2 separate regions of the Homo sapiens genome follow, and region 2 is reported to be linked to region 1. The links are microRNA targets in miRTarBase. Many come from high-throughput screens and were not tested one by one. Region 1 holds a microRNA gene; the other region holds the end of a gene's coding sequence.
What was found. Region 1 holds the annotated microRNA hsa-miR-3663-5p (GCUGGUCUGCGUGGUGCUCGG, at 2,803-2,823, shown strand). A microRNA usually pairs through its seed, bases 2 to 8, with sites in the 3' UTR of a target mRNA and lowers its output. Matches are read on the target gene's strand: a 7mer-m8 pairs with bases 2 to 8, a 7mer-A1 pairs with bases 2 to 7 and ends in A, and an 8mer does both.

Region 1 (5,073 bases):
TTGACCCATTCAGAGAGGGTTAATTAAGCTAAGGGAAAAGGCATAAATGTCTCAGGCAGAAGGAATTGGCTATGCAAAGGCCACGTGATGGGATGATGTCATCAACCATTCTTTCAGCAGACAGCACTGACCCCGTGTGCCCAGCCGCATGCTAGAGGCAGGAATACAGGGGAGAAAGACCAGCACTGCCCCCAAGAAAAGCCCACGATGACTGTCGGACCTAGGAGGATCCTTGGAGAACCTGAAAAGGTTTCACATTGCATGGAGGATAAGACTAGAGCCTTATAAGATAAGACATCACTGAGAGTTCAGTTGTTAATCCTGGGAGGGGTGAACTCATGAATGATCACTGGGTGTGGTGGTGCATCCCTGGCTCTAGTCTTACCCTCCATGCAACGTGAAAACTTCTGATGCCCCAACTCAAACCTAATTTTCAAGCCTTCGTTAGCTAAAATCTCACCGAAGTCCAGCTTTAGGAGAAATAACAGATACTATTCCCTGGCTTATGCCAAACTCTTTACATGCATTGTTTTGTTTTTTTATCTTTGTAACAACCATGTGAGATTGCACTAAACTGACACTCAGAGAGAAGGTAAGTCATGCCCCCGAGTCATTCAGCTAATAAGTGAAAAGAAAAAAAAAAATCAAGATCCAAACCCAGGTCATTCTGGCCCTAGAGCTGAAACTCAGTGAAAACCAAGCTCTAGCCAGGAATTGTGGTTAAAATAAAGCTTCAGCCAGCTGGATACTCCAGGGTGTTTAGGAATGTGAAGTTTGTGGGTATATCTTGGTATTGTGGTTGTGTTGATGCTATTGTAGTTTTGGTAATGTGGTCATCTCTTGACAGTACATGCTGAAATGCTTGCAGATTAAGTGTGGCAAGGTCCAGGTTTTACTTCCAAATAATCTGTGTGAATAGGGGAAGCAGTGTGTGTGTAGGTTTTGACAGCTGGGGAGGCAGAGTCCGTGGGAAGGAGGGGAGGAAATAGATTGACCATAAAATAGATTTGCCTTCGTTATTTGGAGGTTGGGGACAGGTGCATGGGAGTTCACTATAATATTCTCTTTTCTTTCCTATATGTTGGAAATTTTCCATAAAATGTTTTTTTCCAAAACAAGTTAAGTTCTGGGTTATGTTTTGATGGCCTACTCCTTCATCTCCAAATCCCATAGACTTTCACAATTATATTTGCCCCCGTAATTGGAAGTTGTATGGGGCTGTTTCAAAAATCTGAGTCATCAAAGATGTAATTGACTTCCTACCGCCGGATTAGCAGGCAAAAATGTACCCGATACTTTCTCTACCGGCGCTGTGTTGGGCTCTGGGCTGAAACCCAGTCTCTCACAGGCCCTCGGAACAGCCCCACCAGTTAAGATCCATCCCTGACTTCCAACTCTGTAACTAGGGACAAGTTAATTGACTCCTCTTAGCCCTTAGTGTCCTCATCAATTATTACGTGGTAATAACCCCTCAGAGAGTCGCCGGGAGAATTAGCTCGGCGCGGTGCATGGGGCTAGAACTCAGGGCCCAGCAGGTCTGACAATGCAGGTTTCCCCGCTCGCCTGTTGGGTTTTTGAAACGCCCTCAGCGGGGTTTTCCTCCTAATTCTGGTTTGGAGGAGCCATCTCTCTCCATCCCGTCTGCCAGCGGGGTTTGCTTCACACACAGACGTGGGCAGATGGCATCGGGGACACAGGTGTGACTGCCGAGAAGGTTGCGGCGCATTGGCGGTTCGGTTCACGGGACGCGGGCGTGGGGTGTGTGGGGTGGGATGGTGTCGGGGGCGGGGGGGGGTGGACAAGAGGGTGTTTGGTGGTGGTTGGGAGTCCCGGCGATCTTTTTAAAATTCAGATGCCAACAGTTCTCCACCCCTGAACTTGAATGGGCTTTGGGTTTTTGTTTATTTGGGGCTTTTCTCCTCTTCCAAAGCACAGCGCTTGCCCCCAGCGGCCTGGCGTCGGGCTGGAGCCCGGCAGAGGGAGGGAGGAGACCGGCATCCGCGCTCGCTGATCAGAGAGAGCCGGGCCTGCTGCTGGGGAACGTGGAGGGGCTCCGGACAGCCACGCGCCCTGGCCGGTCACGGAAAGCTCTGAGGGACATTCGGTCGGCCGTCGGGGAAGAGGCTGGCCGCCGCAGCGCGAACTGGGGGTGCGGGTGGAGCGGCTAGAGGCGCCGGGGTGAGTGGGGATGGAGCCCCGAGGGCGTGGTGCGCGCTCGGCTTCCTGCCGCCAGGGGGCGCCCACAGGCAGAGCCGGGCGGGGCGGCAGCTACAGAGAGAGGGGTGCGTGGAGAGCGACCAGGCCAGGCCTGCAGAGCGCAGCCCCGGCGCCATGTCTCCAGGCTCGTTCCGACTAGTGTTGGGTCACCCTCGGCTCAGCCCCGGGGGAGGACGAAAGGGTTGCGTGCAAGGCCTAGCACCCAGTGGCCATTCATTAAATACGTGCTGGCTGACGAGCTCAGGAACGGCTCTAGGGAGCAGCTGGCTCGGAAACCTCAAGTCCAAGCCCACTCATTCCCGTCTCCCTCCCCGACGGCCTTTTAGTTACCGTGCCCTGGGCCGCGACGGCTTCCTTTTAGATTGGGGCAGCAAGGGAGCCCCTGCGCAGCGAGGACGCCGACGGGGCGGCGGGGAGGGGTTGTCCGGCGGTATCCCCGCTCCGTGCTCCTCGCCTTCCACTGCCTCCCCGGGACACAGCAGTCATGGCTTCGACTGTGACTTCTTAACTGGCTCCTCCCTGATCGCTGAGCTAAGCCACAGGAGAAGGGGAGGAGGGCTTCCTTCCCGGGACCTTGGTCCAGGCGCTGGTCTGCGTGGTGCTCGGGTGGATAAGTCTGATCTGAGCACCACACAGGCCGGGCGCCGGGACCAAGGGGGCTCGACAAGAGGATCTCAGAACAAGCTGAGTCTCTGGAACTAGCTGGGGTGCGTGGAAGTACGCGCCACGGCCCGCGATTCCTGGGAGCGTGTCTCAACTTCTGCCAGTGCCAACGCAGGAGAGAGAATTGCGGCTCAGAGAGGGTAGCGTGAATGGAAACCGAAGGGCGAGAGCTTGGCTCTCTAATGCCACCCAACTTAGTGGTTCAGAGCTTGGCCTCCAAGGAAGATTCAGTTCAAGTCCCCGCTCTCCAACTTACCAGCTGTGTGATCTTGGGGGAAGTTAACCTCTCTGAGTCTGTTTCCTGCTCTGTAAAATGGAAATTTAAAAACTTAAACATCTACTTCGGTCGAGGCTGTTGTGAAGAAGTGGGATTGTGGGTGCATAGCTCTTAGCACAGTGCCTGGCACAGGTTAAGGCTGGATACGTGGCAGCTGTGAGGCCCAGTGTTCTCGTAGCTGGCCTGGCCAGATGCAATCATAAGCGAAGATGACTCACTTCCCACAGCAGAGGTGTGCGAAGCCCTGCGCACCTGCTGTAGTCTGCACCCGGGCAGAAGAGAACCCAGGAGCGTCGGGACCTCCAACACTCAGCCCTCAGGGCTGAGGACACTGCGCTGTTTCTGCCCCTTCTAAAACCGGAGGCCGCGATGCCCCTGTGCAGTACCGGCTGGCGCCCACCCTACAAGCTGATTCCTGGGGGCCTTTCCTGCAGCGGACGCCGGCAACCATCACGACCGACCTTGACTGAACACATGTGGGCATCCTAAGGACATTACCTCAATCCTCACACCATTCCTGAAAAAAAAAAAAACAAAGAAACTGGTGCTCAGAGAGGCGAAGTAACTCACTCAAGGTCACACAGCTAGAGGGTGGCCAAGCTGGGACTCCAACCCACTCTGGCTCCGGAGCTGGCGCCGCTTCCTTCCTACCTCTCTATCAAGCTCAGTCTCAAAGCCTGGGACAAACCATCCGGTTGGGGTGGGAAAGGCCACGCACGTCCTGGGGTCGAGGACCCTGTGCCCACGACAGCAGTCTTCTCGGCACCCGTAGAAGCCAGTGCCAGACAAGTTGGGTTGGAAGGGGCAGGCTGGGCTGGCGGAAGGGGGCTCTGGGCCCCGCCCTGCCTGCGCCCCCCGCGGATCACGCCTCCGTGCTCAAGCTCCTGCCAAGTTTGCCCCCATCTCTCAGGTGCCCTTGGACTGAGTGACTAAGCACCTCGGCACCTCTCCAGCCTGGGGTGCGAGGAGGGGCTGGCCCTGATACCCACTTCCTTTCTTCTCTGGAAAGCCAAGGTGCCAACGAAAGATGCCCTGGAAGCTGGTGTTCCTTAAAGAATGAACAGTCCCAGCTCCAAACGTGTCTCTCTGAACGCAAGCCTCTTCCTTCCGTTCGCCTGGGCCTGTAGTCGAAGTCTCCTTGGGTCCCCAGCCCCCTCCCGGGTAGACGTCAGCCTGGAGGTGGATGCCGGAGTCGAGAAGGGTTGCGGACCATGCTGGGGACCTGGCTCAGGCAGTCAGGGGTCCGGGTCCTCTTTGGGGAAGTGAGCGCTTGAGGAGGAGGGAGAAAGGCTTTTGAGTACGGCTTGGGGGGACTTCTTGAGGTCCCTCGGGATAGCTTCTCTGTTAGGCGTGTAGCCAGGAAAGGAGAAAAAATCTGTCCCGCGCAGCCCAGGGAGGAGCCTTGCAGCTGCGGAGGGGGGCACTTTCGGCGCTGGATACCAGGGGGCAGTGCTGCGCAGCGAATCTGCCGGGCTCCAGCCGGCAGCCCGGGGCAGCAAGTTTGCTGAATTCCCTCTGTCTCTCGAATCCGCTACGAAGTTCCTCCCAGGGCGCTCCTGACGCCAACAGCCCCCTCGCCCCGTAACATGCGAAAGAGGGCACGGTCCTCTCTGTCCGCGCGTTGCCGTCGGTGCGGGCGTCCTGGCTGTCTTTCCTTGGTAAAGGCAGCTACCACCGGGTTGGTTTTTGACCACTGACTTGGCCCTAGGGAAACGTAAGGTGGGGTGGCGGGGTGCCCCGTCGGGTTTTTGCAGGCCGTGTGAGCAACCTCAGAGTAGAGGTTTGAGGGGACTTTCTCAGCCTGGGCTGGAGCCCCCAAAAATGCAGGCGCCGCCTTTGAGAGGAAAAAAAAAAGCGCTGGAGGTTGGCCGCCTGCATTTGATCGCCTTCCGAGTTTACGTAGAAATCCATCCGAA
Region 2 (5,073 bases), not on the chromosome of region 1:
ACTTTAAAAATAACAATGTTATTTGTGGGGGTGGTGTTTTCCCAGAGAGACAAAGAGTTCCTGAAGTCCACGTTTCTCCTGGTTTACCATGACTGCGTGCTCCCACTTCTCCACTCCACACGCCTACCCCCATTCAGGTGGGCAGAAGAAGAGACTGAGACTGCACGGTGGAAAGTTATCACTGACTTCCTTAAGCAAAACCAAGAAAACCAGGGCGCCCTCCAAGCTCTGCTGTCACCAGACGGAGTTCATGAACCTTTTGACCTTTCAGAGCAGACCTATGACTTCTTGGGTGAAATGAGAAAGAATGCAGTGTGACAGTGGCAGCCTCTAGCCCTCAGCTTCCCACGGAATCAGATGGATCCTCCACGATTACGTGAATAAAATGATGGAACCAAAAATCACTGTCACTTTACAACTTAGGTTTTACTCTTTTCTTTCTACAGACCATATTTTTAAAGAAATGTTTATACAATAATTTAAATATTTTTTAAAACCATAAAATAAATTTTTATAAGGAATACTGTTATATCTAAATTTAAACAGTATTTATTTTTTCAAAAACAGCTACTTAAGTTAATGGTATAGATTTCTATAAAAGCAAGATTTTGTCAAAAACTAAATTTATGATTATTCAAGAAAGTGAAAAAAACAACCTACAGAATGGGAAAACATATTTGCAAATCATCTAACTGATAAAGGTCTAGTATCCAAAATATTTAAATTTATGAGTGTTAATAAAATTTATCTTGTTCAATGAAGAGGAAGTTAAAGTGATCCATTTGAGAAAGTTGTATCACTTAATTCAGTCTGATACTTGAATGTGATTTACCCCTAATTAAGTACAAAAACAGAGTCGCTTTTGCCTTTTCAAATCAAGAAAATAAGTGCTCTGTCAAAAGCACAAAAAGAAACTTTCAGGCACTGGAGAGTGGAGTCGACTCACCCTTTCAGGCCTTGTTGCATCTCAGATAAACCTGTGACTGCTGGTAAAATAATGTCCCAAGCCTTTCCTTTTAGTGATAAACAGTAGCAGCCTGCGTTAATTGAGCACCTACTGTGTGTCTGAGCATTTCTCATTAGCCCAGTTAATCCTCACACCTACTGTAGGAGATAGGTACTGTTGTTTTTTATTACCGCCGAAGAAACAGGCCAGATAAGTGAAGTAATTTGCCTAAGGTCACAGCTAATAAGTGGCACAGCTAATATTCCCAGTAAAGATACCATGTATAATTTTCTACAACCTAAGATGTTCTGCCTTATCGGGGCGAACCTTTTAGGATTCCATGTGAAAATAAAATATGAGGAAAAGTTTAACCTAAATAATTAGAATCCCATTAGAGGTACTTTTTTTTGATGGCATGCTGCCTTAAAAGAGCCATTTATTTTTAGAGATCTGTCATATTATGAAAGTTCTGGGCTATCTTAGCTAACTTATCCTAAACCCTTAACCTAAATTTAACTTGAGCCCCAGTCTCAGAAATTAACATGGTATGAAGGTGTTTCCAGGCCAGGCGCGGTGGCTCACGCCTGTAATCCCAACACTTTGGGAGGCCGAGGTGGGTGGATCACCTGAGGTCAGGAGTTTGAGACCAGCCTGGCCAACACTATCTGTACTAAAAACACAAAATTAGCTGGGCGTGGTAGTGCGTGCCTGTAATCCCAGCTACTTGGGAGGCTGAGGTAGAAGAATTGTTTGAACCTGGGAGGTGGAGGTTGCAGTGAGCCAAGATCGTGCCATTGCACTCCAGCCTAGGCAACAAGAGTGAAACTCCATCTCAAAAAAAAAAAAAAAAAAAAAAAAAGAAAGAAAGTGTTCCCAGCCACAAATGTGACAAGTGAGAACTGGGCCTTGGAAAAGAGATTTCATTCTCCAGGAACTCATTTCAGGAGATCTCTCCCTGTGCGTGCCCTTCTGCCCTCAACCACACAATACAAGGCTGAGTGTGGCAAACACCTTCCTTTTGCCCATCAGCTGCCTGGGCACACTTACAAAGTGGTGCCCCCACTTCTCTAGCACCGCGGCCCTCCCCAGCTCCTGCTCCCAGGGAGAGGGCTTTGCCTTTCAAATGGAGGTGGTAAGTGTGCACAGAGACTTTTTGCTACTCTGTTACTGAGTTGCCTCCTCTTACTCTTAGTCCCCTGCAGTCCTGTTTTTGAAAGAACATGAGCCCATATCACTCCTCACTGTGAAAGTCATTTCTCTGTAGAAATGACTTTTAATTTCTAAGCTCCACCTTTTTATTTTTTATTTTTATTTATTTTTTGGGCATTTATTTATTTATTATTGATTTATAATTTCTAAGCTCCACCTTTTTATTTTTATTTATTTATTTTTGAGGCATTTATTATTTATTATTATTTATTTATTTTTATTTATTTATTTATTTCTGTCACCTAGGCTGTAGTGCAGTGGTGCAGTCACAGTTCACTACAGCCTCAACTTCCGCGGGCTTAGGTGATCTCCTACCTCAGCCTCCTGAGTAGCTGAGAGCACACACACGTGCCATCATGCTTGGCTAATTTTTGTGTTTTTTATTGTAGAAACAGGGTCTCACTATGTTGCCCAGGGTGGTCTCGAACTCTTGGACTCAAGCAATTCTCCTGCCTCAGTCTCCCAAAGTGCTAGGATTTCAGAGCCACCATGCTTGGCCATCTTTTTATTTATTTTTTTTAAGCATTTGGCTTATTCTTAGCGTTAAGCCAGGGGTGGGGCATTTTGAGTGAAAGAAAATGCTAGTGAATTTCTTTCAGTGCATGTACAACATGAAGGAAGAGAAGGCTTTTTATTAGAATGCATTTTCCAAGACTGTCTTCCACGTTCATTTGAGAATGTGTCATGAGCTGACAAATATGGACAACTTCATAGTTTCTGACACATTAGGAAATCATAGGGACACCAGAGAAAAAGCTTAAGTGAAGCTTAGGCCAGAAAGTGAGGTACATAACGGAAGGGAGAGACCCAGGGGTGTGGGCATTTCTGCTATTAAGAGACTCCACCTTCTCTTCAATCAGTGGAATCTTTTTTTTTTTTTCAAACAACAAAATCTCTGTGACTTTAAATGCCACTTACTGGCTTCCACAACGGAAAAGGTTGTCAAGGAGCCAAAAACATCCTGGAAATGAGTCCTCGTGGGTCTGTCTCAAGGAGTGTGACTTTAGCAACTCACTGAATTAATTGTAAGAGTCATGGTGGTGGGGGGCGGGCAGCAGCAGGGTGAACAGCAGGTCTTTGCCGAGTGACCACACGTGTGGTGCCTACCTCCAAGGCCAGGGGGACTCACCACACCCGAACCATGGGAGGGCGGCCAGGGCGGGGAGTCTGAACTGTGAACTACATGGCTCACTCCTCCCCACCCTCCCAACCTCTTAATTGGTTGAGTGTCATATCCATCAGGTCTGCAGAGGTGAAAAATGTTGCAACTCGCTTGCCTGGGTGCTTGGAATGAAAGTCTAGGGGCAGAGGCAGATATTAAAGAGCAGGTATAGTCTCTGTCTTCAGTGTTTGTGATCTAATGCGCAAGGCCAGAGCAACTCACATAAAACCAGTTGACATACATAACCCTGTGTACAAATGGAGCAAGTTTGACTTGCCAACCCAGTAGCAGTTGGGAAACTATCAGTTTAACAGAGGAAGCCAGCAGTGTCCTCTGCCAGTTGAGGGCTTTGTCAATTTACAGCATTATAGGATATCCTTTGCTGTGAACTGCCTCAGCTTCCTCTTGCGTGAAGCATTCTAAGTTGGGAGGCTTTCTTGGGGTGTGGAGGTGATCAAAGACAGCTGTCACCTAGCTGCTGTGATCTGTTTCCTCAAAACAAAGAGGCAGAGAAAGAACCTTACTTAGGGCACTTTGCATCTAAGTGTTACAATTATCCATTCATCATTTACTCAACAAGTGTTGAGCACCTGCCATGTTCCAGGCACAGCACTGAGCTTTGAAGATACAGTGAGAACAGTCCTGGCAAGATCTCTGTCCTTACAATGCATGAGGTGGACAGTAATCAGCCAAACACAAAAACTAATTCCAACAGTACTATGGTTGGGGCTGTTAGTGGCCCCGTGGCAGGCATGAAGTCAATGGTAAGTGTACAGGCATTCCTTCCTATCCTCACTCTCCCTCTCCCAACCCCACTGTCTGTTGTTGGGGACCAGTTAGATTCAAATACCTTTTCAAATGAATCCCTCACTATTTGAACTCCCACATTTACTCTCTGAAACTCAAGGACACGTGGATTTGGTAATACTGTATCCCTCAAAACTCAAACTTGCTCTCTGAATTCTGATATTTGAATGCAGTAACCAAGTCAATTTGGATAAAGAGGGATGGGTATAAAGATAAGTGAATGGGCCAGGCACAGTTGCTCACACCTTTGGGAGGCCAAGGCAGGCAGGGTGCTTGAGCCCTGGCATGCGAGACTAGCCTAGGCAACATGATGAGACCCCATCTATACAAAAATTAGCCGGGTATGGTGGTGCAGGTCTGTAGTTCCAGCTACTCAGGAGGCTGAGTTGGAGGATTACTTGAGCCCAGGAGGTTAAGCCTGCAGTGAGCTGTGATCATGCCACTGCACTCCAGCCTGGGCAACAGGGAAACCTTGTCTCAGAAAAATAGTAAGTGAATGGCAAGTGAAAGTCTATAGGTTATACTGTCTCATAGGCAGGAAAATGGAGGTCGAGGATGTTCTGCTCAGTGATGACTGATACTGAATGAGGCGTGCAGGTCTGTGTGCAGCAATATAAAACAGAACTCATTAATGGAATACAGCTCACATTTGGGACTTTGATAGTGTGCCTGTCATTTAGCCCTTTTCTGATACTCTGTAAGACAGACTGGACCTTAACCTGCTCATTTGTATCTGACTTTGCCAGCAAAGATTAACTTTGCAGAACTGTGTCCTTTCGAAGAGGCCATTTTGGGGAATAAAAAGGTCTCCATGCTTTCTGAGCTCTTCTCCAGGTAGGAATCTCTGGATGACCCAGACATTATCCCATTGAGTCCTTCCTCTTTCCGGGCAACTGTTCTGTACTTGCCCAACTCCAGAGACACAAGAAGCCAGACTCAATTCTGCCTC

Region 2: miRTarBase lists NPHP1 as a target of hsa-miR-3663-5p. The part of its 3' UTR that is shown has no 7-base or 8-base seed match.

Annotation. Positions count from the first base shown.
Region 1 is chr10:117,165,484-117,170,556 of GRCh38, reverse strand. It overlaps MIR3663 (microRNA 3663), which reads left to right and starts at 2,783; the gene lies at 2,783-2,879. It overlaps MIR3663HG (MIR3663 host gene), which reads left to right and starts at 1,502. Exons shown (of 3, transcript NR_121651.1): 1 at 1,502-1,697. RefSeq lists an enhancer at 4,410-4,964.
Region 2 is chr2:110,119,036-110,124,108 of GRCh38, reverse strand. NPHP1 (nephrocystin 1) reads left to right here. Exons shown (of 20, transcript NM_001128178.3): 20 at 46-761. The coding sequence ends at 318. Among named protein-coding and RNA genes, the nearest start is that of MALL, 5.8 kb to the right of the region's middle.